Linked DNA regions of Homo sapiens. The protein of the gene in region 2 purifies or fractionates together with the protein of the main gene of each other region. This does not show direct contact. Each region holds a gene or a part of one and is shown on either strand. Other genes may lie near its edges. The genes, in order: EFL1, SP3, GRHL1 and SUB1.

Region 1 (7,777 bases), on a different chromosome or scaffold from region 2:
TCTCATCATTTGACAGTCTTATCCTCAAAAGTGATTTTTATAAAGCTTTTTTTTTTAGAAAAATGTATAAAGTTCCCTTCATTTCTTAGTTGTCAGATATATTAGTTAGGAAGCAGGTAAGACTGCTCTAATAAAGGGATCCCAAAATATAGTGGCTCAAATAAGGCAGAGATTATTTCTCTTTTGAGTCTAAGGAGGCAGACTAGGGCTGACATGTGACTCACTGTGGTAGGAGCCCAGGCCCATTCTGGCTTGCTGCCTTTCTCAACACTTAGCTCCCACTGATTGTCCAAAGTGGCCGTTCTACCTCCCGCATCACATCTGCATTCCGGCCAATAAGAATAGGGATGAGGAAGAATAAGATATACTCCTTCCCTTTAAGGACACAAACTGAATCTTGCACACATCACTTCACCCTCATGCCAATGCCCAAAACCAGTCATCTGACCACATCTAACAAGGCCCCACCTAAGAAGGAGGCTGGGAAATGTAGTCTTTAGATCTATGGCCTATTGTCTGTTTTGATAAATAAAATTTGTTGGAATACAGCTGTACCCAATCATGTATGTATTTTCTATGGCTGCTTTTAAGCAGAGTAAAGTAGCTATGATAGAAATAATATATGGCCTGCAAAGTCTAAGATATTTACTGTCTGGCTCTTTATAGGAAAAGTATGCCCCCACCTTCGGACTCTAGGTGGCTATATGCCTACCTGAAATATCTATTACCAAAGAAAGGTAGAGAACGGATATTTAGGGACAACTAGTATAAAAACAGCAAGATTTTACCAAATAGGCAGTTTTTGTTACCTGAAAGCCTTGATGGTTGTCCGTCTCCTTTATCCTTCAGAAATTTAAAAAGAAAATCTTAAAATTGATCTTATACATGTAATACTTTTTTTAAAAAATATTACTTTCTGGCTTAGCTACATCTCGTTATTAAAAATAAGTCTCTTAAATAAATAACTTGAGAGAAAAATATTCTCAAGAAAAGTTTTGCCCCAGTTTTGTACCATCCTTCTGCCATGTCCTTGCCACCTGTCGTGGTCCTGTTCCCAAAAGCTTCAAATCTTTGAAATCTTAAAAACTACATTATAATTAAATGTCATTGATCTGATATATTTTGGCTGTCTTGGTTTTTCCCCCATAGTTAGGTTTAGAAATAACACAGTTGTTGAGATATGGCTTCTCACTCCAAGGCACTTCTTTTCATTTGTATTCTACCACACCATATAATTTACAATCAAGAGCTTTTGAGAGAAAGTGCTTCAAAAAATAGAGAAAATAAAATTACAGGCATTTTTCCATGAGGAAACCTTTGAAGTCAGCAATCTCATAATTTCTCTTTCTATGTTTTACCCTTCTATGAAAAAGGAAGAAAAGGAGCTAATAACAGACACAGAAAGAAAAAATATTACCAACCAGTGCTGTTGTACATGTATGTCAGCATAACCTCAAGATTCATCGCTTATTACTGAGATTACCCTGAGGGGTGGGCTAAAGTTCATACCGGGTGAAGTGATTACAATAGCACCAAACAAGCTTATTTTGGACATGGTATTTTCCACCTGCCAGCAGTAATCATCGTGAAAACTGGGCAGAAAATTGAAATGGAGCACCCAGAGCTTTTTCCTTCTAGGCTTTCTTTTCCCTTAATGCCTAGGGTAACAGTTTGCACTTGGGTGCCTTCTTATGATTAGAAAATGGCATCCCCTTCAGGCTGTTGAATTGCAAAAATACATTCTCACTCTAGGCCGATGAATTCTGGGTGAGGCAGTGAGGGAAAAAAAAAAAGCACCTTTTTCTTCAGTTTGATATCAAGCCCCTCTCTGTGGCCTGGAGGGTCCTTTCTGTAGAGCACAAGCTGGACAACCATAAAAGGGTAGCCTTGTCTTTGCTCCACTAAGGAAATTCAAAACCAGCCTCGAGCACTCGAGTGTTACTCCATCTCCCCTGTTCTCAGAGTTTGTTGGGTATGTTGAGGCAAGTGGCTTCAGGCTGTCCACACAGATGCAGGAGTAGTGAAGATGTCTTCATACAGTCATATGATATTGGGACTTTTAACATTCCATCCTTACAAATAGAAGAACCCAGGTATAAATGGTTCGAAATAAGCTGCCCAAGATCGCACAGCTAAGCAAGTAGGGAACTGGCATTGAAGGGAGACTGCCTGGCTCCAGAGCCAGTGCAGTTGACCCTCACACCACGTTCACTCTGGCCTCAGTGCCTGCTCCTGATTCAGTGAAGTGCCAACCCCCGACTCCTCACTCTCTGGGTTTGATTCCACACAGACTCACTTGGTTCTTCTCGCTCATTGCAGTCTCTCTGCCTGTTTCCTCGCATATGAGGAAACAGACACCACCCCTCTCACCCTGTCCTCCCACCAGCAAAGCAGAATAACCAATTCTGAAAACAGTTTGTGTTTCTTATGAATGTTGAGAATTTTACCTCCAGACAAAAGAGAATTATAACTTGTGGCCGGGTGTCTTAAAAAGAATTTGTTAAAAAAATTACAATAGTTTTTTTCCATAGGAAGTTACCAAAAAATATGTACAAGGAGGTCCTATGTGCCATTCACCCCTCCTTCCCCAATGTTAACATCTCTTACAGTACATTGACATTGATACACCCATAGCACTTGTTCAGGTTTCACCAGTTATAATAAATGCACTTGACTTAGCTAGTACCATTGTGCAATTTATGTTTGGATAAACTCAGTCTTCATGGCAGTCTGCAAACATGGCAAAGGGCAGGCTTTGGAGCCAGACAAATCTAGGATATGCCAGGTGCTTTACCATATGACTTTCATATAATATCTTCTTCAGTCTTCACAACAACCCTGTATCAGTTGATAGATTATGAGTGTTTTCAGCCGCAAGAACCATAATGCCAGAATAGTAATTGTTTAAGCAAGTAGGGCTGGTACCATGGCTCAGGGACACCATCAAAGATGCAGGCTCCCTTTCTTCTGCTCTGTATATTCATGGGAGTTTGTGTGTCTTTAGTGCTATAAAAGTGTATTACATATGTAGCTTTATGTAATCAAGATACAGAATTGTTCCATCACCACAGGCTCCCTCATGCTCCCCCTACATAGCTACACCTACCCTCACCCTGGGTGGGTGGCTTTTGACCAGTCAGGCTGTTTTGAGTGGCAACCACTTTCCCTCCCTTCCTCCTGCCCAGGCCCTGAGCCCATACTGACTCAGCCCTACTGGTATCGTGTTGACATTGTTTGCTGGTGAATGATCTGGAATGAGCCTTTCTATCCTAGGCCCAGTGGCTGGTGAATCAGAATTGAGTCTCTGGGACTGTTGTGCCCACAAAATTATAGCACAAACCCTCTGACCCAGAAGAACCCCCTCAGATGACCAAGTCCACAGGACTGAGCTTCCTCCCCACTCCTCCTTCTTAACTGCCGTTTCTCGTCTAAATTCCATCCATTCGCCCTTGTCTGCCACTCTGCCTACCCCCCCCCCCCCCCAATTCCTGGACCTTGTCTCCTTTTCTGCCCCTTGTTGCCCAACCTCTAACTGGGCTCCCACTTCGAGACGCTCCTTAGACTTGCTGTCACCCACCAGAGTTATTACTCTAGTGCTGATAATGCCTCTGTGCCCCCTGGCTGCTCTCACTTCTACTGTCTGCCTTTTCCTTCCGGGGACTCTTTTTTGAAAGGATATTTCTAGTTCTTTTGTTGAGTGTCCATGAGAGGTAATATGTTTTAAAGTCTGTCCAACAGAGGCTTTTTTTGGTTCGCTGATAATGGTTTATTTAACTAGATAAAGACGTGTAGGCTCACACTGAGGCTCCTTAGCACTCTGAAGGACTTCATTGTGTCCCAGCAACTGCTGTTGCTGATGCGAAGCGTCTCGTTGGTCTGATTCATGTTCTTCTCTAGATCTGGCTTTTCTCTCTGATTTTCTCTGTACCTGCCTCAGCACCAGGACACAGGCAGCTGCTTTGTTTCCAACCTTTGTTCAAGAGCAAGAAGCACAGTTGTGGCTCACACCTCCCATTCTATAGTGTCTAGTGGGTCAGAATCGAGCCTCAGGAGATGCAGGTGCCCACAGATTTCCAGCATTTCAACACTGTCACAAGGGGTGGATTATTTTATTATCTTGGTCCAGACTCAGTGAGGTTTTTCCATCTGAAGACTCTCATCCTGTTCTCTGTTTTTTGGTTTTAGAACTCCTGTTAGATATACCCTATACATACTTGATGGCTCTTGACTTTCCTTTGAGACTTTTTTTTTAATCTCCATCTCTCTGTGCCGTATTCTGTATTCAGGGAAATTTCTTTAAGTCTCTCTTTTTAAAAATAATGTACTGAGGTGAAATTCATACAACATAAAATTGAACTTTTTTTTTTCTTTTGAGACAGAGTTTCACTCTTGTTGCCCAGGCTGGAGTGCAATGGTGTGATCTTGGCTCACCACAACCTCCACCTCCTGGGTTCAAGAGATTCTCCTGCCTCAGCCTCCCAAGTAGCTGGGATTACAGGCATGCGCCATCAAGCCTGGCTAATTTTTTGTATTTTTAGTAGAGACAGGGTTTCTCCATGTTGGTCAGGCTGGTCTCAAACTCCTGACCTCAGATGATCCACCTGCCTCAGCCTCCCCCAAACTTGAACATTTTAAATAAACATTTTGCTGCATTTTTCCCATTCACAATGTCATGCACCCACCACCTCCAGAAAAAAAATTAAAAATTAGCTGGGCATGGTGGCATGCACCTGTAATCCTAGCTGCTTGGGAGGTCAAGGGAGGAGGATCACTTGAGCCCAGGAGATTGAGGCTACAGTGAGTATGATTGCACCACTGCCCTCCAGCCTGGGCAACAGAGCAGAACTCTGTCTCTTAAATAAAAAAATATATGTAATAATAATAAGAGTGTAGTTACATGTGTTGATCTTTGTTGAGGTTGAGGACAAAGGCAAAATATTGATGGCAAAGACATTAACATTCAGATATATCCTAGCAAAAATGAAAGCTTTTAAAAATTATATTATGAAAAATTAATAGTTTTCTTTCTTCCTTAGTGTTATGAACTGGCGCTAGGAGCAAAGAATAATAATGTATGTTACAAGTTTTGTTGAATCTACTTCCATTTGTTCACACCTCCCATGATTCTTCATACTTTTTTTTTTCTTTTTAAGTTGGAGCCTCACTCTGTCGCCCAGGCTGGAGTGCAGTGGCATGATCTCAGCTCACTGCAACTTCTGCCTCCCGAGTTCAAGTGATTCTTCTGCCTCAGCCTCCCTAGTAGCAGGGACTACAGGCACATGCCGCCCCACCCAGCTAATTTTTGTTGTTGTTGTTGTTGTTGTATTTTAGTAGAGACGGGGTTTCACCATGTTGTCCAGGCCGGTCTCGAACTTCTGAGCTCAGGCAATCCACCTGCCTTGGCTCCCAAAGTGCTAGGACTATAGGCGTGAGCCACCACACCCTGCCGATTCTTCATACTTATTACCATTCCTAGCAAGCTTAGCTGTTCATTGCCTAACTTTTTTTCATTAGCTAAGACTATATAAATTGGGGAGCTCAGTGAATAAGGTTTGAAATTAAAAATGCCTAACCTTGCACATTCTGTCATCTTCTTTTACAAGATCATTCCCAGTGACCCCTTCTGGGTGCCAACTACTGAGGAGGAATACTTGCACTTTGGGGAGAAGGCTGACTCTGAGAACCAAGCCCGGAAGTACATGAACGCAGTACGAAAGCGGAAGGGGCTTTATGTGGAAGAAAAGATTGTGGAGCATGCAGAAAAGCAGAGGACACTCAGCAAAAATAAGTAGCTACCTACTACTGGTGGATTCTTTTCCTTATAGTGAATTTAAAAGTATCATCAAGGGTTTAATATTGGGAAAATTTCTTTTTGCCACATTATCTCTGTTTATTCACTTTCAATAAAGTTGATCCATATAAATATTTTAAAGAGGATGTTAGAGAACATGTTTTCCAAGTGTGTTTTTAATTGGTTCTGGTTCAAGGCAAGAAGTTATAAATATTGCAGTGATGATTTATGACTGCCCTGTGTATAACCCCCAGCAGTAAGACGTGTGGTCAGGGCTACCCTCTTGGTGGTGGGGAGGTGATGTGCAGACCCACAGTGGGCAGTCTCCTCTGCACTGAGCGGCCACTCCGGGGCTCACACTGTCTCTGCCTGTCATCACAGTGTCATAATTCTGAGTACATCCTCCACATAAACATCATGTGTGAATTTCGGAGTGGAAACATTTCATATTTAATCAGTGAATCAGAGCATTTAACATTGTTTGGAGAGACCGCATACTTGAGAGAGCAGCTGCTTTTTAGTTAAACCAAGTCACTGTTACAGCTCATCCATCTTATGGTGTTGTCTAGCAAAACAGTATCATGTTCAATAGTTAGCCTGTAAATCTTCTGCTTTTACACCCACTCATAAATTTTATCATTCCTATTTAAATCAGTGTTAATGGGTGTTATCCCTGTACCTTTTTCTTTTTTTTTAAAAAAAGGTAAATTTCTATAATTTTATTTGCTATTTCCTTTTAGCCTTACTTAGCTAATGTGCATGAGGTTATGGCTTTATTGTAAATATTTTTTCTAAATCTCAGTTGCCTCCTTCAGGGTGATCTTCATTTAAGGAGCAAATGCAGTTCAGACAAAAATAGATTTTATATTTTTTGATGTTGCATAATAATTTTTATAGCCACTTAAAAGAAGGATTCCTTTTCATAGCATAAAATTATCAGACCAGACTTTGTTTTTGAAATACTTTAATGGGTTTTCTTAATAAACTAGGTCATTTTTAATACTAGTTGTAGACATTTTATCTCTAAATCTTCAGGGCCCTGGCATAGCTGGTCAAATCTAATTGGCCTAGACTTTGGGGAAAATGTGACTGGATAATTCACTGTCTGTTTAATTTCAACAGATAATAATATATGAGTTAGTTTAGGAGAGTTATATCATCTATTGGTTTATTTGAAAACTTTGATAACATAGGAAAAACTAGCACTTCGATTTATAGCATTTGTAAATAACATCATTCAAACTGCCAGATGTGCTATAAAATGTATACTTAGATCAGCACATTTTGCATTTAATAGAGAAAAGAGGCATAACCCAGAAAAAGTTGGAGAAAAAGTTGCACTTTCTGCAGTCTGTTGGGCCCTGACAGATGTGCCAGTGTGGGGGAAGTGACATGTCGAGTTGATAGATTGTCTGTCTTCCTTCTCCATGTTTGAGAGAGGTAATAATGAGCAGGAAAGTGGCCACAAAGAGGCAGACCAAGGGATAGAGCCAATCTACCATCTAAATAATCTACCTTATTGTGTAATTCATGACGAGACCTCAGTCATTGAAACCCTGTCCCCTTCTGTGACAGCATAGTAAGACTACGTTTGTACTGTGCCCAATGCCATGTCCAAACCCTAGCCTCTGTTTGTTGAATTCAGTAGAAGCCAAGCAAAATGTTGTCAGTCCACAAGTAGAAGTGAGAGTGTTCCTGTTCTTACAGAGGGGCTGGCTTTGTACACTCATTTATAGATAGGCTTCAGAGACAGTGAGGAAGGCTAGGTTGAGGAAGCCACAAAACCACGGCTCTCACTCCTGGAGAATTATTTGTATTGAGGTCCAGAGGCAGCTATCCTTCTGCTCAGGGGACAGGCATAGGCAACACCAACATAATGCCTTTTCCCAGACATCCTGGAGTCGGTGGGTGAGGGGAGGAGAGGCTGGGAAGGGCCTGGGCTCCAGCCCCCACTGGAGGATGAGCTGCAAGTAGCATGGAGACCAT
Region 2 (7,275 bases):
AAAACTACTGCATAAGTAAAATTAAAAAGCAGATTGCTTCTCCTGATCTTTTTTGTATTTCAAATGGAACAAAACTTTTCTTGTAACTGTAATTTGTAAAGTTTAGATATCAGTTTACAGATGGGGGAGGGGAGAAGGAAGGAAATATGGGTGAATAATATGTGTATGTACATACATATGTGAGTCTGAGGCCCAAGGATAGAATACTGTCTCCAACCTTAGCCAGCTGTGGCCATATACTTGTAGGGAAGTTTCCATGCTTCTTCAGCTGCTTTTCTGAATTACCAAATCACTCCTGACAACACATATTCTGCCACATGAAGACGAACTAGAATCAATCTGATAAATCTGAGATTTATCAATCAAATACATCATAATTTGCCAATCATAGTAAAATGAAAATAGTTTTGCCTAAAAAAAAAAAAAAAAAAAAAAAAACCCAAACCATATATTTATGATGTCTGGTACCTGCACCCAAGATTTTTCACTTTGAGTAAAATTGGTAAGACTGGCTTGTGTGTATTTGCCTTAGCAAATAGAAAATTTGCTAAAAATTTATTTTTCCAGTGCAAATATGAACTTAAGACATCTTTTCAGCACATCTTAGAAAAGGAAATTCACATGAGTTCATGGGCTTAGATAATCTTTTATTACTCAAATGACTGGGAATTATGAGAGGTTATAGCTGTGTTTTTAAATAATTGTATTTTGGAATAATTTTAAATTTATAGAAAAGTTGGAAATACAGAACTGAGTAATCTCATACCCTTCATCCAGCTTCCCCTAATGTTAGGATAATGATGATACATTTGTCCAAATTAAGACATGAACATTGGTATGACATTACTAACCAGACTTTGTTTGCGTTTCACCAGCTTTTCCACTAATGTCCATTTTCTCTTCTGGGATCCAGTCCAGGATTCCACATTGCATATATATTGTTGTGTTTAAACAAGTGGAAATATACACATACAGATGAACTTTATGCCAGTTTAGCTTGGTATTTTGAGATTAAAAGGGCCTTGAAAAGCCAATCAACTGTGCTGAAGATTGCTTTTAATATTTGGATTTTGAATTTGGAATTTGTCATAAAAGAGGATCCTAGCCAAGGGTGTTTGGTTACCCACAGTACATTGCTGAAGAAGTCTAGTCATAAAGCAGTCTCGTATATAATGTCGTACAACATGGACTCTGAAAGATGGTTTTATAGCAACGCTCCTTTGTACTTAAGTTGTGGCTAATTTTAGTAGTAAACCAGGAAATAGAAAAAAGTAGACCTTTGTGCAAGTATTAACTTTGACCAGTTTGCATTTATGTGAACTTGTGGATTATTAATTTACTTCATTTTTACTTTAGTGGAATAAAATAAGTGACTTTTATTTTTATTTTTATTTTTTTGAGACAGAGTCTCACTCTGTCGCCCAGACTGGAGTGCAGTGGCGCGATCTCGGCTCACTGCAGGCTCTGCTTCCTGGGTTCACAGCATTCTCCTGCCTCAGCCTCCCGAGTAACTGGGACGACAGGCGTGTGCCACCATGCCCGGCTAATTTTTTTTTTTTGTATTTTTAGTGGAGACAGGGTTTCACCGTGTTAGCCAGGATGGTCTCGATCTCCTGACCTCATGATCTGCCCACCTTGGCCTCCCAAAGTGCTGGGATTACAGGCGTAAGCCACTGCGCCTGGCCTAAAATAAGTGACTATTATGAAAGTGATTGCTTGATCTTTGGTTTAGGTTGTAAATTTAGTGTTCCTTAATTTGGCACATAAATGTTGAGCTAAAAAATAAGTAATAGCTTACTTCAAAAAAGTTATTTTGCCATTATTTAAAATAAGACCTGTGCTGTCATTGTAACTAATTCATTGGGTAGGGTAATTCTATTTGAAGTCTGAGTTCTTTTAGTGCTCTTTGAAGATTTTAAGAAACTTGAATATTTGCCTAAGTTCTTAATTTGTTTCCACCTCAGCTTCACACCTGTTCTTGTTTCCAGTTATACTCCTTCCTTTCCTATTTCTGGCTTTCGTAAAGGCATTCGTGGGAACTAAGTTAATAATCATTTCCAAATGCTATGCAATAGGTGGTGTGAATTTTTTCTTTTTCCGTTTCCACCGGTATATTTGTATGTAGAGAGACTTAGAGTGCCTTAGTTACAACTTTTTACTGTACTAATGCCAACATTCATGTTAGATGGTGTTTTGTTTGTTTTTTGAGAAAGGCTCGCTTTGTCTCCCAGGCTGGAATGGAGGTGTGTGATTACAACTCACTGCAGCCTCAACCACTGGGGCTCAGTTGATCCTCCCACCTCAGCCTCCCTAGTAGCTGAGACTACAGGCACGTGCCACCACGCCTGGCTAATTTTTGTATTTTTTGTAGAGATGGGGCTTCGCCATGTTGCCTAGGCTGGTCTTGAACTCCTAGACTCAAAGGATCCACCTGCCTAGGTTTTGTTTGTTAATTGTCCGGTAAGAAAGGTACTGAGAGAAACACTGGTGGATTTTTAATTTGGTTTGTAAACTTACGTAGACATAGGTTATGTAGAGGATTATCTTGCTTCTAAACCAAATACTAGTTCTCGTCTTGGTTGCCTGTTTTAATTTTTTTTATTTTTATTTTTATTTTTTTGAGACTGAGTCTCGCCCTGTCACTCAGGCTGGAGTGCGGTGGCGGAATCTCGGCTCACTGCAATCTCCGCCTTCCAGGCCCAAGCCATTCTTCCGCCTCAGCCCCCAGAGTAGCTGGGACTACAGCCCCAGAGTCCCAGAGTAGCTGGGACTACAGATGTACACCATGCCCGGCTAATTTTTGTCTTTTTAGTAGAGGCGGGGTTTCATCATGTTGGTCAGACGGGTCTCAAACTCCTGACCTCAAGTGATCTGCCCGCCTCAGCCTCCCACAGTGCTAGGATTACAGGCGTGAGCCACCGGCCCTGTCACGGTTGTACGTTTTTAAATCTCCTTTTATTCTTTTGTTTCTGTAGTGTTTCCAGTAGTCTAACATCAAACATTTTTCAAACTTTTTTTTTTTTTTGGTCTCAGATGATTTTCTAATTTATTCCTCTCCCATTTGGTATTTAGTGTACTTTATCTCTTTTAGTGGTATATTGCTGATGAAATTTCTTTTACAAAGAAATTTGATTGTGCTTTGCAAGGCTTTGTAGTTTTGAAATATTTGGAGCTGATTCATTGTGGAATTGTGGAAATAAATAGGCTTAAAATTGGTTTAGACTTTTTCATAGAAGGCTCTTAATACCTCAAAATTTGTTTTGATCCATTCTGTCATTGTGTTTGCAATGATTTTAAAGTAAAATAACTTTTCATTCAGTAAATATATATTGATCTTACTGAGTGCCAGGAATTGTGCTAGGCTAATTTTAATGGATGTTTTTCAAATCTATTCTCATAATCTTAGCACTCACAATGATCTTGGGATTGCACAGTGCTCAATAGTTTATAAAATTTAATATTTTTCTTCTGATTCTTATGCCCCTGCAAGGTAATGTTTTTCCGGTTGTTGACATGAGAAAATTGAGTTGCTGTAACTCACACAATTCCACAGTGTAGCCAGAACTAGAACTCAGTTCTGAGCTTTTTTTTTTTTCTTGTGTAATATATTGTCGAGTGTAGTTTTGGCATAAATCATCTAGTAGTTTTCTGATTCAATGTGTTTTTTCCATTCCATTTAGAAAATAGGGTATTCAGCAAATTTTTTTAAAACTGCAAATTTATTAAATTAAAAAAGTTCCTTTTCTTGCTTGATTCTTTTCCTTAAATTACCTGTTGCTTTTTTTTTTTTTCCCCCATCGTTGTGCTTCACAGGTATTTTAATAATGCTTTTCATTTCAGGCTTATTCAGAAAAGTTCGGAATACATCACTTTGCTCTAGGTTTAGAGATTTTCCTTCAATTAATGGCCTGAATTGCTGAGAAAAATGGCACTACAGTTTATTTTTATCTAGCTTCTGGAGAGGGGATGACTTGGGCAATATTTACTCAGATTTGTCATTTGCGTTAGCTGTATTTATTTTCAAGGAATTTCTTGACTAGAAAGCTGTTCAGTGATGGTTGAATATCTGCCTTTATTACTATTTTGTAAAAAAAAAAAAAAAACACTTTAGGTGCTGTAAATTTGACTTTGTTTTTTTTAAAGAAAGGAAAAGGGACAAAATGCCAGTATCATAAAATTAATTTGTGTCTGAGTTACTATATTCTTTGATAAAAGTTCAATACCTGTAAATTTTATGCTGGTCAGAAAAAATTTCAGTGGATCCTCCAGGTGAGCAATAACCTTAAGAAGATAAAGGTTAGATTTTAGACACACTTTAGTGTAGATTTTAGTATATAGATTTAAATATTTGTAGTTTACTTAAAATGCCAAGAGACCGAAATGAAACATTTGTCACTGTAATGTTAGGAAAGGTGACTTAACATTGTAATTTCTATACCAGATTGAAGTTGCAGAGTGACATGTGACTTTAATGTCTGATGCTTCATTTTAAAATTGTTTAGTAAATATAATTTAAGTGTATTTAAGACAGATCGCTATTTTATAGTTCAGGCCTAGAGATTTGTATTGGGTTCCACAATTTCTCAGCCTTTAGTCTCCTCCCTTTCTTTCAGTCTCCTTCATTGAGCCTTAGTTTATCTTTATAAGACACAGATGTGATTGCACCACTCACTTGCTTATAAACCTTTTATAGCTTTCACTCACTATCTACAGGATAAAGTCTAAACAATTTAGTGGGATCTGTGAAGCCATTTACAAGCGTTGATAAAAATATCTAGTCCTGTTCCCCATTACTTTCCTCTATGAATATGAGCCTTTTTGGGATCTTTTCTTCAACTCCAAACTGCATATTATTATTTAGGGTTTCTTTTTGTGATTTTATTGTTTCTATGCTTTTATTAGTGCCTCTTTTTTAACTGACTACAGGAAAATCTTATATTCTAATACTACTTTATCTCTGTATGAAATCTTTTTTTTCAATCTTGTGTCTTCCACAGAGTGTTTTGATCATATGACTAGTCTGTGCTACTTTTCACATTGTATTAGCATGGATGTGTGTATGTCTGCTTGGATTGACAGTGAACCGTTTGAAGATTGGGATTGTATGTCATGGGTTTACTCACGTGTGTATTTCATCTTGGTAAATTACGTTCAAATGTTTGAATTCAGTCATTTAACTGTGGTTCATCCACTGAAATAACTGTATATATTTCTCAACTATGTCTTCATGAAAATTAGGTAGTGAGTTTCTTTAAGAAACTTAAGATTTTTTTGTTTATCATATTTGCATTAAGTTTTATAGAATGGTTTATGTTGAGAGAACTGTGTATGTCTCAACTGATTTTTATGGTCCCATTGAGATTCCCATTGAGAATATAATGAAACCCTAGATTATCTTTCTCTCCCTCAAATTGTATTAATACACCAGAATACAAAAGGTATATGCCAGACATTCTACTGAAAACTTAGACTAGTAAGTAAAGTCACAGTGTGTATCCTCCAGCTTCTGATCCTAGAGAAACCTTTCAAATGGGGCTACGTTGTCATGTGGTCACAGGGCAATGACTTTTTCTCATTAAGTTTTTTTAAGGTCTTTGTTTTTCATTAGTTCATGGAAAAAGTAGAGTTTGATAGCTTAATGGAATAGCCCTAGCCATGAGTTTACTTTAGAGTATGTTAATAGATGCCACAAAAGAGTAGATTTCATTGTTTGATTTTAGGCTTATAGCAATAAATCTTTTCTAAGTCGGATGACTTAATACACTATGCTTATGTTTCCTTTTTATACACAAATATAATGCACCTGATTTGGTCATAGCCATCTCCACTGTTTTGTTTTGTGTTTTAACTGTGTAGTGTTAGAGATCATAGATGCAGGATTAGAAAATTGGTCTGTGGTTGTGATGAACATTCCGAGAATTTTTTTTATCCCACTCAAATAGGATGAATTGTCTTTGCAGTAACAAAACTGGAAGTGATAATTATTGTAGTTCATATAGTACTGCTCCTGTATTTGAACTCCATTGTGTTTTAAGATAAGTTGAATTTTCAGGTAGTAGGATTTATACCAGTTTTTAGAATTTTTTGAGGGTTGATTTAAATATACCACAAATATATCACCTTTTTGTTTTCTTCATCCAGACAGGTGATTTGGCTTCTGCACAGTTAGGAGGAGCACCAAACCGATGGGAGGTTTTGTCAGCCACACCTACAACTATAAAAGATGAAGCTGGTAATCTAGTCCAGATTCCAAGTGCTGCTACTTCAAGTGGGCAGTATGTTCTTCCCCTTCAGAATTTGCAGAATCAACAAATATTTTCCGTTGCACCAGGATCAGATTCATCAAATGGTACAGTGTCCAGTGTTCAATATCAAGTGATACCACAGATCCAGTCAGCAGATGGTCAGCAGGTTCAAATTGGTTTCACAGGCTCTTCAGATAATGGGGGTATAAATCAAGAAAGCAGTCAAATTCAGATCATTCCTGGCTCTAATCAAACCTTACTTGCCTCTGGAACACCTTCTGCTAACATCCAGAATCTCATACCACAGACTGGTCAAGTCCAGGTTCAGGGAGTTGCAATTGGTGGTTCATCTTTTCCTGGTCAAACCCAAGTAGTTGCTAATGTGCCTCTTGGTCTGCCAGGAAATATTACGTTTGTACCAATCAATAGTGTCGATCTAGATTCTTTGGGACTCTCGGGCAGTTCTCAGACAATGACTGCAGGCATTAATGCCGACGGACATTTGATAAACACAGGACAAGCTATGGATAGTTCAGACAATTCAGAAAGGACTGGTGAGCGGGTTTCTCCTGATATTAATGAAACTAATACTGATACAGATTTATTTGTGCCAACATCCTCTTCATCACAGTTGCCTGTTACGATAGATAGTACAGGTATATTACAACAAAACACAAATAGCTTGACTACATCTAGTGGGCAGGTTCATTCTTCAGATCTTCAGGGAAATTATATCCAGTCGCCTGTTTCTGAAGAGACACAGGCACAGAATATTCAGGTTTCTACAGCACAGCCTGTTGTACAGCATCTACAACTTCAAGAGTCTCAGCAGCCAACCAGTCAAGCCCAAATTGTGCAAGGTATTACACCACAGACAATCCATGGTGTGCAAGCCAGTGGTCAAAATATATCACAACAGGCTTTGCAAAATCTTCAGTTGCAGCTGAATCCTGGAACCTTTTTAATTCAGGCACAGACAGTGACCCCTTCTGGACAGGTAACTTGGCAAACGTTTCAAGTACAAGGGGTC
Region 3 (8,039 bases), about 160 Mb from region 2:
ATAAAAATGAAGGTGGTACAACCGCTGCCCTCTCTGGAAAAGCTCACACTTGGTGGAGACAGACACAAACAGGAAAGCCCATAAGACAAACATGGTGATGGGCAATGCAGAAGGCGCTGTGGATCCCACAGGACACCTTGTCCAGCCTAGAGGGTTGGGAAGGCCACCTGGAGGAAATGAGCCAGGCTGGAAGTTGAGTGGAGTGGGCCAAGCATGGAGGGAAGGAGCAGGGAATGCGGGGACGGTGCTTGGGAGTGAGCAGTAAGGGAAGTGCTGGGCCGCCAAGGGGAGGCTGAGCTCAGGAGTGTGGACTTTATGGTGAGTATAACTGAGTGACAAGAAATCTGTGTTTTATAAAGGCCACTCCAGTGGCAGTGTGGAGCCGGGTCAGAGGAAATAGAAGAAAGGCAGGTAGAGGGACACTGTTCCCAAGTCAGTCACTTTGGCACCACCCTGATGACTTGTACCCTATTTGGGACCATCTGTGCTGTTATTGACTAGCATTTTTCTTAAATTAGCGTGCTTAGAAAACATAATTGATTTGGCAGGGCGCGGTGACTCATGCCTGTAATCCCAGCACTTTGAGAGGCCGAGGCGGGCAGATTGCCTGAGGTCAGGAGTTTGAGACCTGCCTGGTCAACTTAGTGAAACCCCATCTCTACTAAAAATAGAAAAATTAGCCGAGCGTGGTGGTGGGCGCCTGTGATCCTAGCTACTTGGGAGGCTGAGGCAGGAGAGTCGCTTGAACCCAGGAGGCAGAGGTTGCAGTAAGCTGAGATCACGGCACTGCACTCCAGCCTGGGCAACAGAGGGAGATTCCGCCTCAAAAAAAAAAAAAAAAAAAAAAAGGAAAAGAAAAAAATAATAAATGATTTAAACAGGAAACTAGTGGTAAGAACAAACAACAGGCTGCATGGATCCAGTGCTGGGCCCGGGGTCAGAGGACAGAAACTGCGAAGGGCGGTCTCAAGTGAGGCTGCCGATTCCGGTCCCTGAAGGCCTTGGACCAGGGCACAGAGGAGGGACTGCTGGCTGCAGGAGGGCCCTGTGACCTCATGCTGCTCCTCACTTCACCTCCTTCCCTTGGCTTCCACGCTTCCATTGCTTCCGACCTCGGTGTCCCCGTCTTCTGTCTCCTCCACTGGCTCTTCCTCCCAGCCTTTCTGTGTCGGAGGCTCCTGGATCCAGCATGGGTCCCATCCTCTTTCCTTCCTGCCTTCTCATGGCTTTAAATGGCCTCTAGACGTGGGCGGCGCCCAGATGTGAGCTTCAGCCCAGACTTCTCCCTTGCACTCCAGCCTCGTACCCAGGAGCCCACCTGATTCATGGATTTTTATCTCCCATACATCTTGAGCTTAGCACGTCCAAAACAGACTCTCGTTCTCCCCCAAATCTTCTATGCCCCAGGTCTTCTGTATCCCAGGGGATGGCAAATCATTCCTCCAGTTGCCCAGCTGGAAACGCTGTAGTCATCCTTGATTCTCTCTTTCTCTCACACCCCATATCCAATTTTCAGACAATCCTGCTGGTCCCACCTTCAAAGCATATCCAGAATTCGGCCACTTCCCACCACCTCACTCTATTGCCCTCGGCCTGCATCATGGCAATGGCCTCCTACCTGGTCCCCACCACGCAGCAGCAGAGAACTATTTTAAAATGTGAGACCCTGTCACTACCCTGCTCCAAGCCCCTCCAAGGCGTCCCCACCTAGCCCAGAGGGAAAGCCACAGTCCTTACGGAAGCCGGCAAGGCCCTGCTCAATCCGCTCCCCTGCGCCCACTATCTCTGACCGCAGCTCCCGCCTCCCTGTGCCCCACCAGCCACCCGGGTCTCCTCAAGGGTCACAAAACACACCAGGGTCCCTGCCTCAGGTACAGTCCCACCTTCGTGGCCCCTCATCTCCTTCAAGCCTGAAAGCCTCGCTCCTCCCCGCCTCCCCAGGGCCTGCCTGCTTTACCTTCCAACCAGCCACACCATTTACTTGTTTTTGTATTGCCCGTTACCCCAACTAGGAAGGCGAGGAGTTGTGTCTGTTCTGTTGACTGCCCTGTCCCCGGCGTCTGGGGCCGCGCCTGTCCGAGGGTCAGGTCCGACGCTGGGCATGTGGGGACTCAGTGAGCGGACCCTGGGAAAGACGGCAGCTCGGGAAGGACAAGTGGGGGCCGTCGCGGTGGAGTGGTGCCCGGGGCCGGCCCGGGGCGCGCGACTGCACGGGCAGCGTGGGGCGGCCGCGCGGGGAAGTGGCGCCCGGGAGGCTGCGGGGCACAGACATCGCGGAGCCCCAGGGACTGCCGCCGAGGGGACCGCGGGAGCTGCGAGGGCAAGAAATCCTAAAAGCGCGCGGCCGCGGTGGGCCAGGAGAAGGGACATTCCGGAGACGGCTCTCGGGGGAAGCCACGGGACTCGGGCGTGACAGCCTGCGAGAACCGAGAGGTGAGACGCGCGACCGGGGAGCGCGGCGACCGGCAGAGGCGCCCCCGCCGGGCGAGCGCAGGGGCAGCGCGGGGCGCTGGGGCCGGAACAGCGGGCAATGTGGGCACGGGGCGCGGAGGCCTGAGTGAGCGAAGAAGGAGGCGGCTGTACGGCCGGGGCTCGTCGCGAAGGGGATGGCCGGGGACGGCGGGGACGGCGGGGGCGGCGGGGGCGGTGGCGGGGCGCGAGCGGGGGCGCTCTCGGTGCGCGCGGAGGTTGGCGGGTGCGCGCCGCAGCCGCAGCGCTCCCTCTCCTGTCAGGGCAGGCGCGTACGGCCGCGAGTCGGGCGCGCAGCCCCGGGAGCGCAGTCCCGGGCGCAACCTCGCGGAACGCGCGGCCCCCGCCCCCCGCCCCGCGCCGCTCGTCCCCGTCAGCCCCGCCCCGGCGCTCTTCTCGCCGACCAATCAGGAGGCGCGACCGGCCTCCCAGCCCCGAGGCCTCGCCCCCAGCCGGCGCATCGCCAGCCAATGAGCGGCCGAGCCCGGCGCCCAGTGCGCGCAGCCCGCGCGGAGCCGGCTCAGAGCGAGAAAAGCAAACCCAACCCGTCGGGGCCGCCGCTCCGGACCCGCAGCCGCCGCCGCCGCCTCCTCCCCCCGGATCGGGTGTACTGTCCCAACCCGAAAGTCCAGTTCTGCGGCCCGGCAGCGGCGAGCGGGCGCGATGACACAGGAGTACGACAAGTGAGTGAGGCGCAGGAGTCCGGCCGCCGCGGGGGGGCCGCGCTGAGGGGCCGCACCTGCAGCGAGCGAGCCGGGCGCAGACCCGAGGCCGCGCGGGCGGGCGGGCGCGGGGCGCGAGCCGGGGGCCGCTGTCCACTCCACGCCGCCACGGCCTTTGCCCCTTAGCCCTGCCGTGCTCTTTGTTCGGTCGGAGCCTCGGGAGGAGAGACCCTGTCCTCGGGGAAACTCGACACCGGAGGGGCCACCCTCCTCCCCTCCTCCGCGGCCAGGTTGGGTCCCCTCGGGCGCGCACCTTGGGGTCCGGGCCCCCGGCGCGGTCGGGTGCGGCGCGAGGTCGGGGCGCAGCCAACGCCCCCGGGCCTCCCCGCCCCCCTCTCCTGCCCGGTCGGCCTCGGGAGCCTGGTGGGGCTCGCGCCGCGTCGGGACAGGTGGACTTCTCCAGGTAATCTGTGGTCTCAGGCTCGTCACTCGGCGACCTGCTGGAACCTCCAAAACAGAAATGTAGGGAAAGGTTGAAGTGCCCCGATGTCCGGGCGTTTTCTTTTCCCTGGCTGGCGGCATGAGTGGGAAAACGGCTGTAGGAGTTATTTTGCCACTTGCATCATTGATGGTAATTACAGATTACCGTGTTTTTAGTGCTCGAGAGAATCAAGAGGATGAAACTTTGAAATCCGGGTGTTAAACGAGAAAGTACTGTACAAGCTAATATGCTTTTTAGAGTGTGTGATTTAAAAGCGTATTTCGACAAATGTGAGGTGGTAGTGTAATAAGGCATGGGGGATTAACTGGGCGAGGGAGTTTTCTGTATTTTCTTTGCAGCTTTTCTGAAAATATAAAATTGTCCTAAAAATTTTAAAAACTTACTAAAGAAAAAACAGGGAAATCGCACCAGGCCAGTCAGTATATTTCAGATCAGGAAGTTTAAGGCAGATAGGTACCCCTCCCAGTTTCTTAGTTATTTGTGAAGGATCGGTTTTTGTCAGTGTGTTCTTTTTCTGGATGAGATAGATATTTTGTATGGAGTATCTTAAATGGATTACTCTTATGTTGTAGAATATGCAGTTAAATTATTGCCTGAAACATATTTCAGAAGTCTGAGAGATCGCAGACGCGGAGTTTAAGGCTCACCTGAAAGTGATGATGAGCCTTCGGCGACTGAAGCCTACTTCCTGACTGTCATGAGGAAGTGGACTAAGAAAGGCAACTGGTTTTGTGTTTATTTCTTGACGTATAGTTTAGATAAGGCAAATTTTCCAAAGCTAACATTTTGGCCTTAGGCAGGCTTTGGAAATATGAAACACCTTCAGGGTGATTCCAAACATAAAGCCATTTCTTTCTCTGTTTTCTATTGCTTGTACAAATTTGGGATGTGGGTGGGAGAAGAAGGGAAGTTGAAAACTAGCATTAAGGGAATTGAACAGCCAAGTGCTGTCATAGTCTTCTGGAAGTAGCTATTACGCTATTAATTATAGCTTAGCAGTACATCAGTCAATCAGTCCATGGCACCAGCCGTTCAGTAGCTGTTGTACTCTGGTCCTGATGGCTCAGGGAATGCCACTTTGTATATTTCTTTATTTTCTTTAAAGTTGAGATTTGTGTAAGCAATCTTCTCCATTTTTAGACAAATGATCTGCTGGCTTTGAACAGTCTTTTATGTTTGTTTTGTGTTAAAATAGTATACCACCTCAAGACTTTCTTACCAAATGTAACGTTTATGCCAAAACGTGAGTAAAAACATTGGCTTTCAAATAACACTTCATTTTGACTGAGGATACATTGTTGGATTTTTTTCCCCTTTTTTGAAGATGTTCTCCTTTTTCTAAATCTGTATCTGTTCTTAAAGGCCCTGGGTGACTCCCAAACGCTAACCTTTGTTGATTACTTGAAAAGATAATCAGTCTTTCTACATTCACTTTTAAAATAGGCAGGTCACCTTTAGGCCATTTACATATTTCATTTGTGTGTTGCAATGAGAGCCAGTCCTTCAATTTGCTTGTTAGAATTGTAATAATTCAGAGGAGTTCCAAACATTTAAAATTTATTTTTCTCCTTGAAAATAAACTGCTTTGTTTTGCTAGAGTCAGTGTTCCATTTTTTCTCTTTATTGACTTATTAAATAGTACCAACCGAACAGTTGTTGAGACTGTTTACATTTCAAGTTTTTGGAATTAGTAATGTTTGCTTTAATCTTTTAAATTAAATCTTCTGTAAGGTTTCACTAAGATCGCCATTGATTTTTTTGGATTTTTCCCACCAAACTACAGTGTTAAAATGAAACAGTTCTTGTGCAATGTGGAAAACTAGCAAAGATTTTTTAAAAGCCAGATTTTCCCACCTATTTTTTTTAAAACTTTTTGTTCAGTGGCTTCATTTATTGTTGGATATCCTTAAGTGTTTATCTCTAAGATAAACAGTTAACTCCCATGCCAGAAAATTATGCCTCTTTATTGATTTACAGTCCCCTTTGGCCACATTCCATGCTCAATCTGCTGGTAATCAGTAGAATATTCTGGCTTTCTCATATACCCTGGAGGATTGCGTGAAGGATCCCTTTTTCTTTCTGCTGCTTCTCCCCTCCCCACTGTGTTCAGGTAGGAATTTTTAAGGCATGGCAGCCACAGTAGAAAGAGGGAATAACATGTAGCAGTGTGATGAACGGCACACGCTCTTCTCAAGAGGGGACAGTCCTGATTGTGTGTTGGAAGAGAACAAGTATTCTCTTTTCTTTACTGTGTCCTTGTGTTTGTTTATGGAAAGTATTTGAATAGCCTGGCATTTTCTCGGGGATGGTTTTGTTTCGCTTTTTTGCCAAATAGTATACCCTGGGTTCCACGTGTAGGTGAACTGCCAGTTCTCTGGCTGCCTAGATACTTTATGTCTTACTGTGGGACCCATTGGTCTGCACTTACGTGGTTTGTCTTCTGGTCTTGTCTTAATTTGACTTCCTAGGGTCATTGATGAAACAATAGGCTATTTTATAGGAATGTCAAGGAATTGGTAGCTTATGATACCTTGCAGTAGAAAAGTGTGTGTTTTTGTTTTTTTTTTAATTTCTCTGAAGCAAACGGCCAGTGTTGGTTCTTCAGAATGAAGCACTTTATCCACAGCGGCGGTCCTACACTAGTGAGGATGAGGCCTGGAAATCCTTCCTGGAAAACCCTCTCACTGCAGCGACCAAAGCGATGATGAGCATCAATGGAGATGAAGACAGCGCCGCTGCGCTGGGCCTGCTCTATGACTACTACAAGGTGGGTTTGCCTGCCTTTAAAACCCTTAACAGCAGTCTCCAATGCACTTGATTCAGCAGCATAGAAACAGACATTTGCTGGTAGAATGCCATGCAAGTTGCTTCTGTAGTGACTATAAATAGTTTAATGAGTACTTTGACTTACTGTGATTCGAAGCTAAAAATCTGTGATTGTAGAATCAAAGGGTTGTTTTTAAAACATGCAAAGCGGTCAGCTGCTGTGGCTCTATCCAGAAGGTGAAGCTACCGTAAAAGAAGATGCTAGATGTGCCTTCTTGGGTTTGAGCATCTCACTGAAGGTGGTTCTTAGTGCCATGGAAAGTGGGCAGGGGTCATTTACCTTTTCACCTTTGTTCCTGGGTAGTCAGGATGATTTCCTTTCCCTAAATGATACTACAGAGCCTTTGAAATCATATTCTGTAGTCTAGGACTGTCCAGTTCCAAGATCAGGATATGTTTTGTTGCCTGTTTCTAGAGATTTGGAGTACTCTTAATTAAATATAATCTATACTCTGCATGGAATTTTACATGATTTTCATTATCTGGAAGTGACACTACTGATTTGTCTCATCATCATTGTCCTGATAACACTAGCTGCCACTATTATGCTAGACATGTTACCAGCCTGCGTGCGACTTCTCACTCAGAGGTCACAGCTAGGATGTGTGCATCTGGGGCCCTAGTCTGGTCCATGGCCGAGGCCACTGTCTTTCTAATGCAGCGTGCATACCGCTCTCCTTCTGGATTCACCTCTCCATTCTTCCTTCTGACCAGAAACACACATTTGGGGGTGGCTACGTCTTTAGGGTGCTACTTAAAACAGCAGACTGAGTTGAAGCACAGCTTTGCCACAGGGCCTTTGTCTCATTGTCACTCTGTGTGACTAACCTGTGTAATCATTGTGTTGTCATCAGTACCTGTATAAAAACAGGATCTGTTTGGGATTACCAGAAGCTTCTTAATGACAGTGTCTTCTCATGAATGTAGTGTATATTTTTTACAGTTTATTTTTGCTATCTTTTTGTTTTAAAAACTTTCAAACCTGCATAAAACTTAAAATAAGAGGATAATTAATTCCTGAATACCTTTACCCAGAATCGCCAGTTGCTAGCCATTGGCTACATTCTGGCACTGTATTCTTTCCTTAATACAAGAAATACAGAGGTGAAAGAAGCCTAGGAGATAGTTTTATTATTAAAATTAGGGTGATTAGCCTGAGCAACATGATGAGGCCCTGTCTCTACCAAAAATAAATAAATAAAAAAATACAGAAATTAGCCGGTTAGTACACATGCCTATAGTCTCAGCTACTTAGGAGGCTGAGGTGGGAGGATCACTTAAGCCTGGGAGTTGGAGGCTGCAGTGAGCTGAGATCATGCCATATCACTACACTCCAGCCTGGGTGACAGAGACAGACCCTATCTCAAAAAAAAAAAATGGGGTGATTATTTCCTAGTATGAGGCCATGCGTCTAACTAAGTTGGGGCTGAGGGATTGAGGTAAGCTCTTTTTTCTTTGAATATGAGCAGAAACTTGTGTAATAACTAATGATGCTAGAAGAAACTCTTACCAGGGAAACATAGCCATGAAGAGTTCCTTTGAAGTGGAAATTATTATATATCTGTTCTTATAGCTTGTTT
Region 4 (7,275 bases), on a different chromosome or scaffold from region 2:
ACGCCTTTGTGGCCAGACCATTTTCATCACCCCAGGAAGTTCCTCTTGGCTTTACAGTCATTGCTCATGTCCTAGGTAATCACTGATCTTATTTCTACCACTATAGATTTATGTTGTCTCTTCTAGAACTTTGTATAAATGGATACATGCAGTCTATTTTTTGTGTCTGGCTTTTGCTCAGTATAATGTGTTGAGATTAGTTCTTGTTGCATATATCAGTAATTTTATTGCTGAGTAGTATTTTGTATGATAATACTACAACTTGTAAATCCATTCACCTTGGGTGGACATTGGGATTGTATCAAGTCTTGGGCTATTAGGAATACAACTGCTGTGAATATTCTTGTACAAGTCATTTTGTGGACATTTTTTCCCTTTTGGGTAAATACCAGATACATTTGCTGAGTCGTAGGGTAAATGTGTAACTGTATAAGACACTGTCAAACCATTTTCCATAGTAGCTGTAGCATTTTACACAGCCATCGGTACTACTTAGGAGATTCCAGTTGCTCCACATCCTCGCTAGATATTGTCAGTCTTTTAAGTTTTTTTCTTTTTAGTTACATTGAATGTATAATGGTAGCTCATGGTGGTTTTACTTTCCATTTCCCTCATGTACATGTCTTAATTCATTGTACATCTTTAGTGTGTTTATTGGTTATTTTTATATCTTTTGTGAAGAGTATCTTTTGGCCACTTAAAATGCCAGGTCATTTGAGTTGTAACACTTTATATATTTTGTCAGATGTAAGTATAATTAATATTTTTTTTAGACTTCAGGGAAACTTTAGTTTTCAAAGCAATCTAGTTCAAAAATGAGTGGAGGTTAACAGAGAGGAAAATATGAAACCAGAGAGAATCAAACAGACAGAATAAGGGGGGACTGGCAGTTGGTCAGGGGCGTCTGTGACAGATCTTCTCTCTCTTGGAAATGAGGTCCTCACGGATTCTGGTCAGTTCATCATTTTCTTCACGTCCACGGTTCTGCTTCTTCCTCAGGCTCTCCTCGAAGGCCAAGACCCCTGTGGCTCCAACTTGAGTGAATATTTTCTTTAGGTTTCTGGTTTACCTTTTTATTTTCTGAAGCATCTTTTTAAAAAAGGCTTTAGTGTGATTGTCTATTCTATCGATTTTTCTCCTTTTTTGCTTAATGCTTATTTTCTGTCCAAGACGTATTTTGCCTACCATGGCCACAAAAATTTTTGCCAGTGTTTTTTCCTAGAAGTTTTATAGTTTTAGTTTTCACATTTAGGTCTATAATTCATGTAGAATTAATTTCTCTGTGTATGATGTAAGATAGAGATTTAGAGTCTTCCCCACCCCAAATGCAGATAGCCTGTTGTTTCAACACCATTTGTTGAAAAGAGTATTCTTATTCCTTTGAATTACCTTGGATTTTACCCCCTCCCCCCAAAAAAATCAGTGAATATATCCAATGCGTGTGTATTTTTTGACTCCGTTGTGTTCCACTGACCTCTTATGTCTGTCTTTACTCCAGTACTGCATTGTCTTCCCTTACTATATTATAGTGAGTCTTGGAAAGTGCTAAGAGACACTTTGTTGAGGAAAGCCTGTTCTTTTCTCTGGAATTTGTAATTTGTGGTAAGCAGATATATAAGATTTTTGAAAAATAATTTTCTGTGAATATTTTTAAGTTCTCAATCTGACTGTGAGTGAGGTGCATTAAAGATGTTATTTGAAGTGAACATGAAAAGGAAAAACTTGGTTGTTATTGACTGGAACTCTGGATTCGTATATTCAGAATGGTTGGTGAAGCAGTGTAGCTAGTTGCATCTGTGGATTCCTCTTGGTTGTAGTTTGTACTGCAAAATATTGCTTCCTAATGATTTTTTTTTTTGCTGGTAAAAACCATAAAAGTATATTCACATTGTTGTGAAACAGATTGCCGAAACTGTTTCATCTTGCAAAACTGAACCTCTGTGGCCATTAAACAACAGTTCCCCTTCTCCCAGCCCTGGTAACCACCATTCTACTTTTTGTTCCTGTGAACTTGACATCATGTAAGTGGAATCATAAAGTATTACCTTTTTCCTTTTTATGACTGGCTTATTTCATTGACGTAGTATGTAACAGGATTTCCTTTTTTAAAAGCTAATTGATATTCCATTGTGTGTCTATTCCACCCCCCCTCTCCCATTTTGTTTATCAGTTCATCTCTGGGTGGATATTTGTGTTGTTTCCACTTCTTGGCTCTTGTGAATAATGCTGCTATGAACATGGGTGTGCAGATGTCTCTTGGAGTCTGTGCTTTCAATTTTTTGGGATATATATTCAGAAGTAGGATTGCTGGATCATATGATAGTTTAAACAGCAATTTCCTTTGGTTGCAGTTTTGATACTGAGAGTAGTACAGTTGACCCTTGAACAATGCAGGGTCAAAATGCAAGGCACCAACCCCTGTGCAGTTGAAAATCTGGTTATAACTTTTGACTTTGTCAAAACTGCTAAGTATAGCCTACTGTTGACTGGTAGCCTTAACAGTAACATAAACAGTTAACATATATTTGTATGTTATATGTATTATATACTGTATTCTTACAATAAAGTAAGCTAGAGAAAAGAAAATATTACTAAGAAAATCATAAGGGAGAAAAATTACATTTTACTGTACTGTATGGTGTTTATCAATAACATTAGTTTACGTTGTCTGTTTATAAGATATGTCATCTGTTAATAAAATATGTCATCTGTTAGAAATTGTAGGCAACCACAGCTGCAGATTTCAGTCCGTGGTACATATCAAGCAATTCAACTTTTTTATTTTTATTTTTATTTTTATTTTTTTGCATTTTAAAATTAAAGACAGGATCTTGCTGTGTTGCCCAGATTGGATTCAAGCTCCTGGGCTCAAGTGATCCTCCGGCCTCAGCCTCCTGAGTAGCTGGGATCATAGGCATGCACCACTGCTTCTGGCAGTTTTTTTCTTGTGATGTCATGCCTTCTCTCTGCTTCTTGGGAGCACTTTCAGCATCACTAGGGGCACTTTGTATAGGACTCATGGTGTTATTTAAAGTTTATGGTATTGCAGTAATCATGATGAAAAATAATGTGAAAACCGTGAGAGATCACTTTTTACTGCAATACGCAATTTGTTGGAGACATGAACTGCTCAGCAGAGATGATTAGCATCACATGGTGTTTTACACAAGGTGTTTTAAGCAGATACTTGTAACATTTGAGTACACTGAGATAACAGGAAGTGGCTATGAAGTTAACACTAGTACACTACTGTAGTTAATTTTATGCAGTTATGAATTAATACTCCATCTTTGTTTACATTTCTCTCTAACTTCATATAATAGATTTGTATGTTTTATGATAGTAAGTGATAAAATAACCTCATATCTAGGTATGTTTTATGCATTCATGACATACCTAACTTTTTCTTAATGTTTTCGTTATTTCTAGGCTATGCAGTTGTTCTGTGAGTTTTTTCAAATTGTCAAGTCTGCAAAAATTTTTCCAGTATATTTATTGAAAAAAATATGCATATAAGTGGGACCTGCACAGTTCAGAGCCATGTTGTTCAAGGGTCAGCAGTAGTCATTTTCATGATTAGATGTAGAGTGAGCATGCAGCAAGTTGTGAATATGAATACAATTGAAACAGATACCACTCTTGAAAGGAGCACCTCTTTTTATGTTTGTTTCTTTTGCAGATTGGGAAAATGAGGTACGTTAGTGTTCGCGATTTTAAAGGCAAAGTGCTAATTGATATTAGAGAATATTGGATGGATCCTGAAGGTGAAATGAAACCAGGAAGAAAAGGTGAGGTCTAATTACTTGAATTTTATTACAGTGTTAGGACTAAACGACAACTTTTCTGAGTAGCTTACTTGAAATGTTGGCAGGACACACGGGGCAAGGAAGAGTCTTACTCAATTGATTCTCTATCTTCTGTAGTTATTTTGGACATGATACTTAACATTTTTTTAATGAGATGTCTTAATACAGCTTTTGGGAATAAAACCCAGAAAAGTAACACCCCTAATATCACTTCAGTTGGCTGCTAATTTACTTGAACAATTTTTAAAAAGGTTTATGCAATTCTGAAGCAGATTAGGCACTATCTGGGAACTTGTAAAATCAGGAATGGAAAATCTTGGTTTACAATGCTTCCTTTTGATTCAGCTCCTAAAAGCTATTCTTTAGGGCATTACTCTTCAAGCGGATCTCTGCTTTCCTTCCATTTGTGCTTCATCCAGTCCCAAGCCTCTTAGCATTGTAGAAACATATTTTGTATAATTCACCAAACAGCTAGAGAAGGTGAGCCAACCTAAATTTGTATATTTGGATTGCTGCTCTAGGTTGACCCTCAGCTAAAGAAAAATGCTTCCTTATTTAGTTTTATTCTGCCTGCCTGTTAGTTTGAAAGGTACCACTTGTTTGCTTCATGCAGTTTTTTTTTTTTTGGTTAAACTCAGCCTCTATATGTGTTTATATGCTTTCATATTTTCTTCAAGTCACTTCTGGATTGGTAATTCACGTACCAGAGTGGCCGATGCCATATTTCTTGTTTATTCTTTTTTTTCAATTTCATGGCCTTCCAGCAGTTTTCTGGGAATACTTTCTGCCAGTTCTTGTTTACTTCTCTGTTTATATGCGTCGGTATTGGAATGCTAGAACGTTAAAGTACAAAATATAGAAAATATAAAATTTCTGTTCATACTTTTACATCTTAAACTGGAAAGACATATCTCACATTTTTTAACCATTTATGTGTTAGGTGATATGCTAAGTTCATTATTCATGTTACTTAATCATTTACAACAACTCTTTGGCGTATAGATGCCATTTTACTGGTGAGGAAACTAAGGCTTACAAGGTGATGTAGTTCTTTTTTAAGGGTCATACACTTAGTGAAAGTGAGGCTGGAATTTTAACCCTGATAGGGTGACCCTAGAGTGCAGTTACCCGGGTATACTCTCTGAGGAGTCCTGTATGAATCACGTCCTGGGAATTTTTCCAAAGTGAAATGAATGCTTCTGGAAGAACTCAGCACAATTGGCTTGAATTCCTGTGGAAATTTTGGGCAAATATTGGAACCAGCTGGAAATATAGTAATGGGGTATCACATGCCAAATCTGGACCTGACCATTTTAGCCTGATAGTTGACGGGTATTAGTAAGATGTGTCTTCAAACCCTTATTTATTCTCATTGGTTACAATAGGTACTATGCAGGATGCACTGTGGAAAGTAAGACTGGATATGAGATTGATAATGCTCAGTAAATTGTGATGATATGTAATTAACAAATGTAAGAGATATGATTTTCAGTATTGTAGCATTGTGTCCAAGTGGCAATTTTTTTTTTTTTTTTAGATGGAGTCTTGCTCTCTTGCCCAGGCTGGAGTGCAGTGGCATGATCTTGGCTCACTGTAACTTCCACCTCCCAGGTTCGAGCAATTCTCCTGTCTCAGCCTCTTGAGTAGCTGGGATTACAGGTGCCCACCACCATGCCCGGCTAATTTTTGTATTTTTAGTAGAGATGGGGTTTCACCATGTTGGGCCAGGCTGGTCTTGAACTCCTGACCTCAAGTGATCCACCCGCCTTGGCCTCCCAAAGTGCTGGGATTACAGGTGTGAGCCACCGCGCCCAGCCTAAAGTGGCAATTTTGATAAAACAGTATTCTAGTTGGAAGTATGAAAATCCTCAACGCTTAAATAGATTTTCACCTTTGAATTTTTAAACTTTGTTTTAGGTATTTCTTTAAATCCAGAACAATGGAGCCAGCTGAAGGAACAGATTTCTGACATTGATGATGCAGTAAGAAAACTGTAAAATTCGAGCCATATAAATAAAACCTGTACTGTTCTAGTTGTTTTAATCTGTCTTTTTACATTGGCTTTTGTTTTCTAAATGTTCTCCAAGCTATTGTATGTTTGGATTGCAGAAGAATTTGTAAGATGAATACTTTTTTTTAATGTGCATTATTAAAAATATTGAGTGAAGCTAATTGTCAACTTTATTAAGGATTACTTTGTCTGCCCACCACCTAGTGTAAAATAAAATCAAGTAATACAATCTTAACTGTTGTGGCCTTTTTTGATCATAAGAGTTGGTACTGTTTAAGGCCAAAAGTAACAGTTTTTATAGATCTTTTAGTTTCAACTCAGCTTTTACAATAAAAAGGATTTGTATTGCATTGAGTTTATAAACTTTTGGTTTGTGAACTTCATATTTGATCTTTTCTCTTCCAATCAAATGTCTAGGCTTGTTTGACTTCCACCCCCAATGGTTTTTCACTCTTTTTATTTACTTCATTTTCCTTTAATAACTTAATCTCTTCATGTTCAGTTTTTACTTCACTCTTTATTCTTTTCTTTGATTATGGTATGCTTATTTGGAAAGTCAGTGAAACTGTCAAAATGTTATCTCAATAAGATACTTATATGAGAACTACAATCACCGAATCTACTGTATTCAATATTAGCAGATCTAATTTGATAAACAACATGGCTTGTGTGAAAACTGAGCAGGTGTTTGTTTACCCATAGTGTTCTGTGTAGTTATTGCTTAGTCTGCAGAAAATAATGACTTAGATGAGATGTCTGACTTGCTTTCACTTATTAAACATGTTCACCATGGGATGATGTCTGTAACATCAGATATTGTTCAACTAGACTAGGATTTAATAAAAATTGTGAAAGCTTACTGGCCTAACATTTTATTTTATAATATTGGGTATGAATTATATGTAGCCAGAGATGTCATTAAGCTTTACTGTTATAGTAGGTAATATGGTTAGTTTGTAGGGAAAAGAGCATATGAGCACATGCTTGTGTATTTTGGCCTTTGCCCCAGTAGAACAGACCAATGGCATTCTAGACTTGATGATACTAAGTTTTAGCAGACACTAGTAAGTGGTTTGTATTTAACCATACTGATGAAGCAGACAGATTGAGGCACAGATTTTAGTGGCTTTGTGGCAATAAATAGGGCATGGTGTGCCTTAGGAAAAGAATGTTTATAAAGGGAATTATAACTGAAATTAAAGGAGGCGGCAGTGAAGAGGAAATAATTCTCTTCTATCTAAATGATATACATATGATATTTTGAGATTTTTATAACAGCAGTGGAACACAATTCTAGGTAGAGTAGAAAAAGGAAAGTTTTAAAGACATATAAAAGATTCTTGTTGACAAATTATTTTTGGTAGCAAATCTCAAATGGTTACCTGCTATTAAGGTCTGCCATATTAGAGTTTTGCACTATTTTGCTACCAAGTTTGATTCATACATCTAAAACATTTT

Evidence for each region.
Region 1: the proteins of SP3 (region 2) and EFL1 fractionate together in Homo sapiens (co-fractionation; one large-scale study listed by BioGRID). This does not show direct contact.
Region 3: the proteins of SP3 (region 2) and GRHL1 purify together in Homo sapiens (co-immunoprecipitation; one large-scale study listed by IntAct). This does not show direct contact.
Region 4: the proteins of SP3 (region 2) and SUB1 purify together in Homo sapiens (affinity purification with western blotting, with the first as the bait; one study listed by BioGRID). This does not show direct contact.

Annotation. Positions count from the first base shown.
Region 1 is NC_000015.10:82,128,388-82,136,164, reverse strand, and holds the end of EFL1 (elongation factor-like GTPase 1), read left to right. Parts: intron 1-5,603; coding exon 5,604-5,792; 3' UTR 5,793-5,932; downstream 5,933-7,777. UniProt on the Homo sapiens protein: GTPase involved in the biogenesis of the 60S ribosomal subunit and translational activation of ribosomes.
Region 2 is NC_000002.12:173,955,099-173,962,373, reverse strand, and holds part of SP3 (transcription factor Sp3), read left to right. Parts: intron 1-6,141; coding exon 6,142-7,275. UniProt on the Homo sapiens protein: Transcriptional factor that can act as an activator or repressor depending on isoform and/or post-translational modifications. Binds to GT and GC boxes promoter elements. Competes with SP1 for the GC-box promoters.
Region 3 is NC_000002.12:9,948,702-9,956,740, forward strand, and holds the start of GRHL1 (grainyhead-like protein 1 homolog), read left to right. Parts: upstream 1-2,991; 5' UTR 2,992-3,132; coding exon 3,133-3,152; intron 3,153-3,210; exon of another isoform or gene 3,211-3,594; intron 3,595-3,600; exon of another isoform or gene 3,601-3,762; intron 3,763-6,213; coding exon 6,214-6,400; intron 6,401-8,039. UniProt on the Homo sapiens protein: Transcription factor involved in epithelial development. Binds directly to the consensus DNA sequence 5'-AACCGGTT-3'.
Region 4 is NC_000005.10:32,595,282-32,602,556, forward strand, and holds part of SUB1 (activated RNA polymerase II transcriptional coactivator p15), read left to right. Parts: intron 1-3,679; coding exon 3,680-3,788; intron 3,789-5,723; coding exon 5,724-5,803; 3' UTR 5,804-7,275.